2 linked regions of the Homo sapiens genome follow. The protein of the gene in region 1 interacts with the protein of each later gene in a pairwise test. Each region holds a gene or a part of one and is shown on either strand. Other genes may lie near its edges.

What was found. Proteins that work in one complex are often made in the same cells at the same time.
Region 2: the proteins of YLPM1 (region 1) and BMP1 interact in a two-hybrid assay, tested with the Homo sapiens proteins (one large-scale study listed by IntAct).

The regions. Positions count from the first base shown.
Region 1 is NC_000014.9:74,832,816-74,836,315, reverse strand, and holds part of YLPM1 (YLP motif-containing protein 1), read right to left. Parts: intron 1,052-3,500; coding exon 905-1,051; 3' UTR 869-904; intron 542-868; 3' UTR 1-541. UniProt on the Homo sapiens protein: Plays a role in the reduction of telomerase activity during differentiation of embryonic stem cells by binding to the core promoter of TERT and controlling its down-regulation.
Region 2 is NC_000008.11:22,203,372-22,206,871, reverse strand, and holds part of BMP1 (bone morphogenetic protein 1 isoform 3 precursor), read right to left. Parts: intron 19-3,500; coding exon 1-18. UniProt on the Homo sapiens protein: Metalloprotease that plays key roles in regulating the formation of the extracellular matrix (ECM) via processing of various precursor proteins into mature functional enzymes or structural proteins.

The DNA.
Region 1 (3,500 bases):
TCATTGAGCCATATAATATTCAATGAAAAAAAGGTTTTGGGATGTTCAGCTAGCATTTAATTAGGACATACCATATTTAAAAAGCAATTAAAAATAAAATTAAGAAAACAAGAGAAAAGGGCCCATGCTGTATAGCCCATGAATCTCATCGGCTTTATCATGAAAGTTTATTGTTTTTAATCCTAGTACAATCAGCTACCAGTTACATACAGTAAAAAACAGAAACAGCCACAAAGCAATGATGATAGAGATAGTCTGTGACATTGTACAGTGGAGGAAATACTCTCTGTTGGAATCCTCCAGCAGACCCCCGCCTGGCTTCAGCAGTTAAGCTATCACTCCCTCCCTCCCCAAAACAGTTAAAAGAAAAATTAACGTCTTGCTTGGGTACAGCAAGATTCTAATACCTCTTGGGGACACTGGAGAACTTTAAAAAAAACTAAAGCAGTAGAAACAAAACAAGAACTGAAACGTGGAAGCAAGGTGACACACAAAGAAGCTCCGCGAGGCCTTGGCTTCAGACCACCTCAAAGCGAACCACCTGGAAAGAAAAGAAAAGGCTGTCACACCTGGAAAGAACAGGCAAAAAGTTCAGTAGCCCTTAGTATAACATCATTTCAGTCCTTCCCAAATCTATAGAATTCAAGTTTTTCTCAAGGTTTTTATTTTTATAAGTGAGCCAGCTTGCAGAAAATGGCTTCCTTTTCTAATAGTATTGTAAATGTTAACAACTAGTACATACTTACTCTTTCAGAACTATAAAATAACACAAGAAGAGAGCATTTTTAGCAAAATATGCTGTCTTCTTTATCTCAAACCCTTTGAAGCAACCACACAGTAGGCTATTTATATGACTGTGTACTCTTACCTTAGAGGAATAATGACTCCGTTCAAAAACTAAGTCTCATATATATTTGGTTCGATTGAGGGCTTTTTCAGCCAGGTGACCACTTTCATCTGTGATCTTCTCCCAATCAGTCTGTCCGACCACAAAACCTATGGCCCTTTTCCTATCTGCATCCTTCTTCTCTTCCAGGTCTGCCCATCTGACCTAAAAAGAACATAGCATTAGGCTGAGCTTTAGGAAAAATAAATATGCAAAGAGCCCCCTCCCTCTCTGGACAGTCTAAGGGGTAGAATGACTCATTTGAAACCGCAAGTTTAAAAAATTAAAAACTAACCCAGGAAAACTGGGAAAAGCCATATATTTTAAGTCACAAAGAGAAAACTCTCTGGACAATCCAAGTCCTAACCATTCCAGCTCCTGAACAGTTCAGCTCAATCCTGTCCTCTCTTTCTCCTCTGCCATTCCTTTTTATTTAATAATTCACTGACCTCATTTTTTTTTCACCTGAAAGCAAAGCACTAATCTCTACCTAGTCTTCCTGTCTGTACTCACCCGCTCCAGATTCATGCTGCCAGAGTGATCTTCCTAAAACACACAGTTGTGATTCATTTGCTTTAACTCCTTCCCCTACCTACCAGGCAAAGTCCAAGAACTCAGGTCCCTCTTGATCTGGCCCCAACTACACTTTCCTGCAACATCTCTGGCCAGTGCCTATGGCATTTTATACAAACAATACAGACTTCCTTCTAGCACTCAGAGCGCATCGCACCATTTCATGTCTCTATAACTCTGCATATATGTACTAGTCATTCTTCCTGAAATGTCTTTTCCCTAACCTTATCCACTTGGCATGAGTCTAGTCATCCTTCCCTGACTTACCCCTTTTTCCTTTGCCAATCAAATAATCACTGCTTTCCACAGTTAACTTCCGGATTTTGATATGTCTGCTTTTGAACTTCCACACCGTAGTATAATTATCCACTTACAGATCTGTCTTCCCTAACAGACTATCAACACCCTAGATCAATAACTGAATTTTATTTATCTCTACACAAAAATATTTCTTGAAATTTAATCTTAGAGAAAACAGTAAGCTGGTATTATTACTTTCATTCATGAGATAAAGAGACCAAGAAACAGACTCAACTGATATAATTCATGGCAAGATTACAACTACAAATATATGGATCAGGGATATTTCCTATTGGTATTCTGATTTTTAATATATATATATTCTTACATATTATGCTTTTTAAAAATTTTTGTAATTTTTTTTTTTTTTTTTAGAGTCAGAGTCTCACTATGTTGCCCAGGCTGGTCTCAAACTGCTGGACTCAAGCAATCCTCCTGCCTTGGCCGCCCAAAGTGCTAGGATTACAAGCATGAGCCACCATGCCCAGCCACATATTATGTTAATATGTTTTTAAAAGTATATGGAGATATACATATTCTGTAAAAGTTCAGATTCTTAAAAAGAAACTATGAATCTGTTGCTTGCACTACACAGTATCAAAGACTGCAGAGAATGTATTTTAAACATGGCTTGTGATTTATTATCTGTGACAAGGAGAGAGAACCAGAGCATGGAAACACCATGCTCTTTACACTGAACCTGGGAATGCATTATTGCTCTAATGTACACTAATTACCATTTGCATGACTAGCAATGAAATAACTAGGCTTTTAACAGTATCACCTGGTCAAAGGGAGGAGCCAAAGTAATAGCAGTGGGAAGAAACTGGTAACATCTGACTTTCCAGAAAGTAGGTTTTTAGTGTATAGAAAACCTATGGCTCAATGTCTTTCATGGGCTTTAGTAAGAAGCCTAATAAATAATGTGGGCTTCAATATAGAAAAATCTTTGGGCATTCTGCTCATCAATGCTGAAGTACCTATTTTGATTAATTCATATATACAGCCAGGCACAGTGGCTTACACCTATAACTCCAGCACTTTGGGAGGCCGAGGCCGGCAGATCACGTCAGCCTAGGTGTTCAAGACCAGCCTGGGCAACAAGGCGAAACCGTGTCTCTACTAAAAATACAAAAATTAGCTGGGCATGGTGTGTGGTGGGTGCCTGAAATCCTAGCTACTAGGGAGGATGAGGTGGGAGAATTGTTTGAGCCTGGGAGGCAGAAGTGGCAGTGAGCCAAGATCACACCACTGTACTCCAGCCTGGGTGACAGAGAGACCCTACCTCAATAATAATTAATTAATTAAATTTAATTCATGTATATTCTCTCAGCTCCACCTGGATCAAGGATACACATTTTAGCGAAAGATCATTACGAACTAAGTCTTGGGCATTTATGTGAAAACACAATACTGTGCTCAGGATGCCGTGGGAATGGATTTAAATTTGCTGTGGGCTGGTTACTTTTTCTTTGTTCAGTGGCCACAGTTTGCCCCTTATATGGTAAGGCTCATTGAATAAAGAAAAAGTAAACAGCCCACAGCAAATTTAAATCCATTCCCACGGCATCCTCAGCACATAGTTAAATATACTTATCAACCTCAGCACATAGTTAAATATACTGATCAATCTCACCTTGCTACTTTTAAATCTACAGTTTAAATTCTAAGTTTTAAACTCAGATAAAATAAAGAATATAGGATTAGAAGAAAAAATGTGTAGGTGTTTTTGAAATGAGTA
Region 2 (3,500 bases), on another chromosome or scaffold:
CCTTGTGGTCACAGCCGGCTGCAGGGAAGCGAGTGACGGAAGGGGATAGAGAGGGACCCCAAGCTCCGATGCCTCCTGTGGGGAAGGCCCTTCCCTCCTGCCCCCCCTCCTTTCTTCCATCTCTTGTCCCACTTATGAACTGGATGGCAGGCAGGCATCGTTTCTTTTTCATGAGGTTACTGCGTCTGGGGAAAATCTAGCTGCCCGATTCCTACAAAAGCCTTGAGTGAGGCCTCACATGGCAGCACTCATGAAGCAGCCATCGCAGGCTCCCTGGACAACCCCCAGACCTTTGTAGGTGTTGGGCCACAGGGGTCATATCACCTGTGCCTCTCCATTTTTCTTTTCTTTCTTTCTTTTTTTTTTTTTTGAGATGGAGTCTCGCTCTGTTGCCCAGGCTGGAGTGCAGTGGTGTGATCTCGGCTCACTGCAACCTCCACCTCCCAGGTTTAAGTGATTCTCCTGCCTTAGCCTCCTCAGTATCTTGGATTACAGACGTGCGCCACCATCTCTGGCTAATTTTTGTATTTTTAGTAGAGACGGGGTTTCGCCATGTTGGCCAGGCTAGTCTCAAACTCCCGACCTCAGGAGATCTACCCACCTTGGCCTCCCAAAGTGCTGGGATTACAGGCGTGAGCCACTATGCCTGGCTAATTTTTGTATTTTTAGTAGAGACAGAGTTTCACCATGTTGGCCAGGCTGGTCTCGAACTCCTGGCCCCAAGTGATCCACCTGCCTAGGCCTTCCAAAGTGCTGGGATTACAGGCGTGAGCCACTGCACCCGGCTGACCTGTGCCCCTCCTTGAAGCTGTCATCCACTGATCTCCAGCAGCCTGGACAGTCACAGGGGACTTTGACACCTGACTCAGTTCTCCCCACCCCCACTCCTGCTACCCTCCCAGGTGAAGTCAACAGACATATAACGGTCCACCCAAGACGGCCTCTCGGTTCCTTGAGGGCTTTGTCATCATCCACTGTTTCTTCACATCACAAACACATCACCCCTCTGTGGCCACCTCCTGTTCCTTCGGGGTGCTCAGGACCTCACCTTCCTGATCATGGTCATTTGGCTTTATTAAAATTAAAAAACAAAAACAAAAATGGGTCCTCACTTTGCTACCCAGGCTGGAGTACAGTAGTGCGATCATAGCTCACCATAGCCTTGAGCTCCTAGGCTCAATTGATCCTCCCGCCTCAGCCTCCCAAGTAGCTGGGACTACAGGCATGCCACCTGGGTAATTTTTTTCATTTTTGCTTGTTGTAGAGATGGGGTCTCACTATGTTGCCCAGGCTGATGTCAAACTCCTGGATTCAAGCGATCCTCCTGCCTCAGCTTCCCAAAGTGCTAGGGTCACAGGCATGAGCCACTGTGCCTGGCTGGCCTCTTAATTTTAGAGAGACCTCCAGGGTCTTGATCTTTCTATTCTCTCCCACTATTTCCTCCTCGATTGACTTAACTGACTGCAGGGCTGACCACCCAGCCTGCTCCTCTGCACCCTGCGTGGCCCTGCATCCCCGGCTCTGCACAGCACTATCTTAGAAAACTCCACCTGTGGCTCCAGCCTCACCTGGGCCCCCAGACCACTTGATACTCTTTGGATTGGCCTTTACCAGCTCCATCTCTCACCTCCTTAGTAACTGCTGCAAACATCCAGCCCCCTCCTCAAGCCACTGTGTCAGCTCCCAGTGGCAGACCACCTCTCTCCTACCTCCTGACAAAGCCAGGGCCTTCCACCATGAATGGCTTCAACCTCTGGACTCCGACCTGCAAACCCACCTACCCTGCTACCCTGCTGCCCTGAAGCCTCAGAGCAAGTGTCCCTCCTCCCCGTCAGGATGGACTGCCCTTCTGGGAGGTGCAGCTCATTGCTGCCCACGCGTGGGAACCCTCACACCACAAATGATCCAGCCTCACGCTCTCACTCAGCTCTGCAGCCTCGGAACCTTCACACATCCTGAAAGAGCTCTCCCAGGCCCCTCCAGCTACAGCCCATCGCTCTCCTTTTGTTTCCAGCTAGCCTTCGAGAACACTCGCTATGGCCACACTCTCACGGCAGGTCTCCTCAATCCACGGCAATCTGACTTCTGCCTCTGAAAAGCATGGCTTCCCCAACTCAATTTCTTTTTGCGGGGGCGGGCGGGGTGGGGGGGGACAGGGTCTTGCTCTGTTGCCCAGGCTGGAGTGAAGTGGCGCGATCCTGGCTCACTGCAACCTCTGCCTCCCAGGTTCAAGCGATTCTTGTGCCTCAGCCTCCCAAGCAGTTGGGACTATAGGCTTGCGCCACCACGCCTGGCTAATTTTTTGTATTTTTAGTGGAGACGGGTGTTGCCATGTTGCCCAGGCTGGTCTTGAGCTCCTGAGCTCAGGCAATCTGCCCCCATCAGCTTCCCAAAGTGCTGGGATTACAGGCATGAGCCACCACGCCCTGCCCCGACTCAGATTTACAAGCTGATGATCATTATTCATGATGACATTATTGGACAGCTTTCACTGGGGGAAACAGGCGGCCAGGCACTATGACTGGTGGGGAGAAGGATGGGCAAGATACAGCACGAGGGCCCGGAAAACAGGGCCCTCTCAAGTCCCTGGTAGAGGCAGGTGAAGCTCCCGTCTACCCACACTTGAACCGTGAGCTGTCACCATTACCCATCGGTGGGTTCACACAGCCCCCTGCCCTCCCTCTTTGCGCTCTGGCCTTCCACGCCCCCTGTGTTCCTTGCACGCCCATGTCTCTCCCCAGCTAGGCTGCAATCTCCGTGGGAACAGAGGGGTTCCTGTCTTGAATCCCCTACAGATCTTTGCATAGTGCTGGGTCCTCCATAGGAATCAGGAAATGCTTACAGATCTGTAATTAACCTATCACCTGAGTAAGAAACCACACATGCTTCTAAGGTGAATCAGCAGATGGAAAGGTAAACAGGCCATCTTCTCCAGGAGCTTCACCCCTGTCCTGGCTATCTTGTGGATTCTGTTCTTTATCAAACCATCTTTTTACACAGGGGAGTACAGAGACAGAATGCAGTTTAGACAATATCAGTATAAGGTCCCCTCTAGCTAGTTCCATGACTCAGGAACTGTGTATTTGGGAAGCCTGAGGTCACAGGGTTGGAAGCCCTCGACTGTCCACTGGTTCACTGTTGAGGGCTTCGGTTCTGTTTCTGCTTGTGAGCAGCTCATCTGTTTAAACCTGGGTTGTCAACCTAACCAGGGTGGGAAGAGTCACTTGCCAAGCATGGTGCTAATGGCTCAGAGCCATGTCTATAAAGCTTAGTACCCTGCAAGGTAGGTATCATTTTTATTATTTTTTATTTTTTGAAACGGAGTCTTGCTCTGTTGCCCAGGCTGGAGTGCAATGGCATGATCTCGGCTCACTGCAACCTCCGCCTTCCAGGTTCAAGCAATTCTCCTGCCTCAACCTCCTGAGTAGCTGGGATTACAGGTGCGTCCCACCACGCCTGGCTAATTTTTTGTATTTCTAGTAGAGACGGGTTTTCATCAC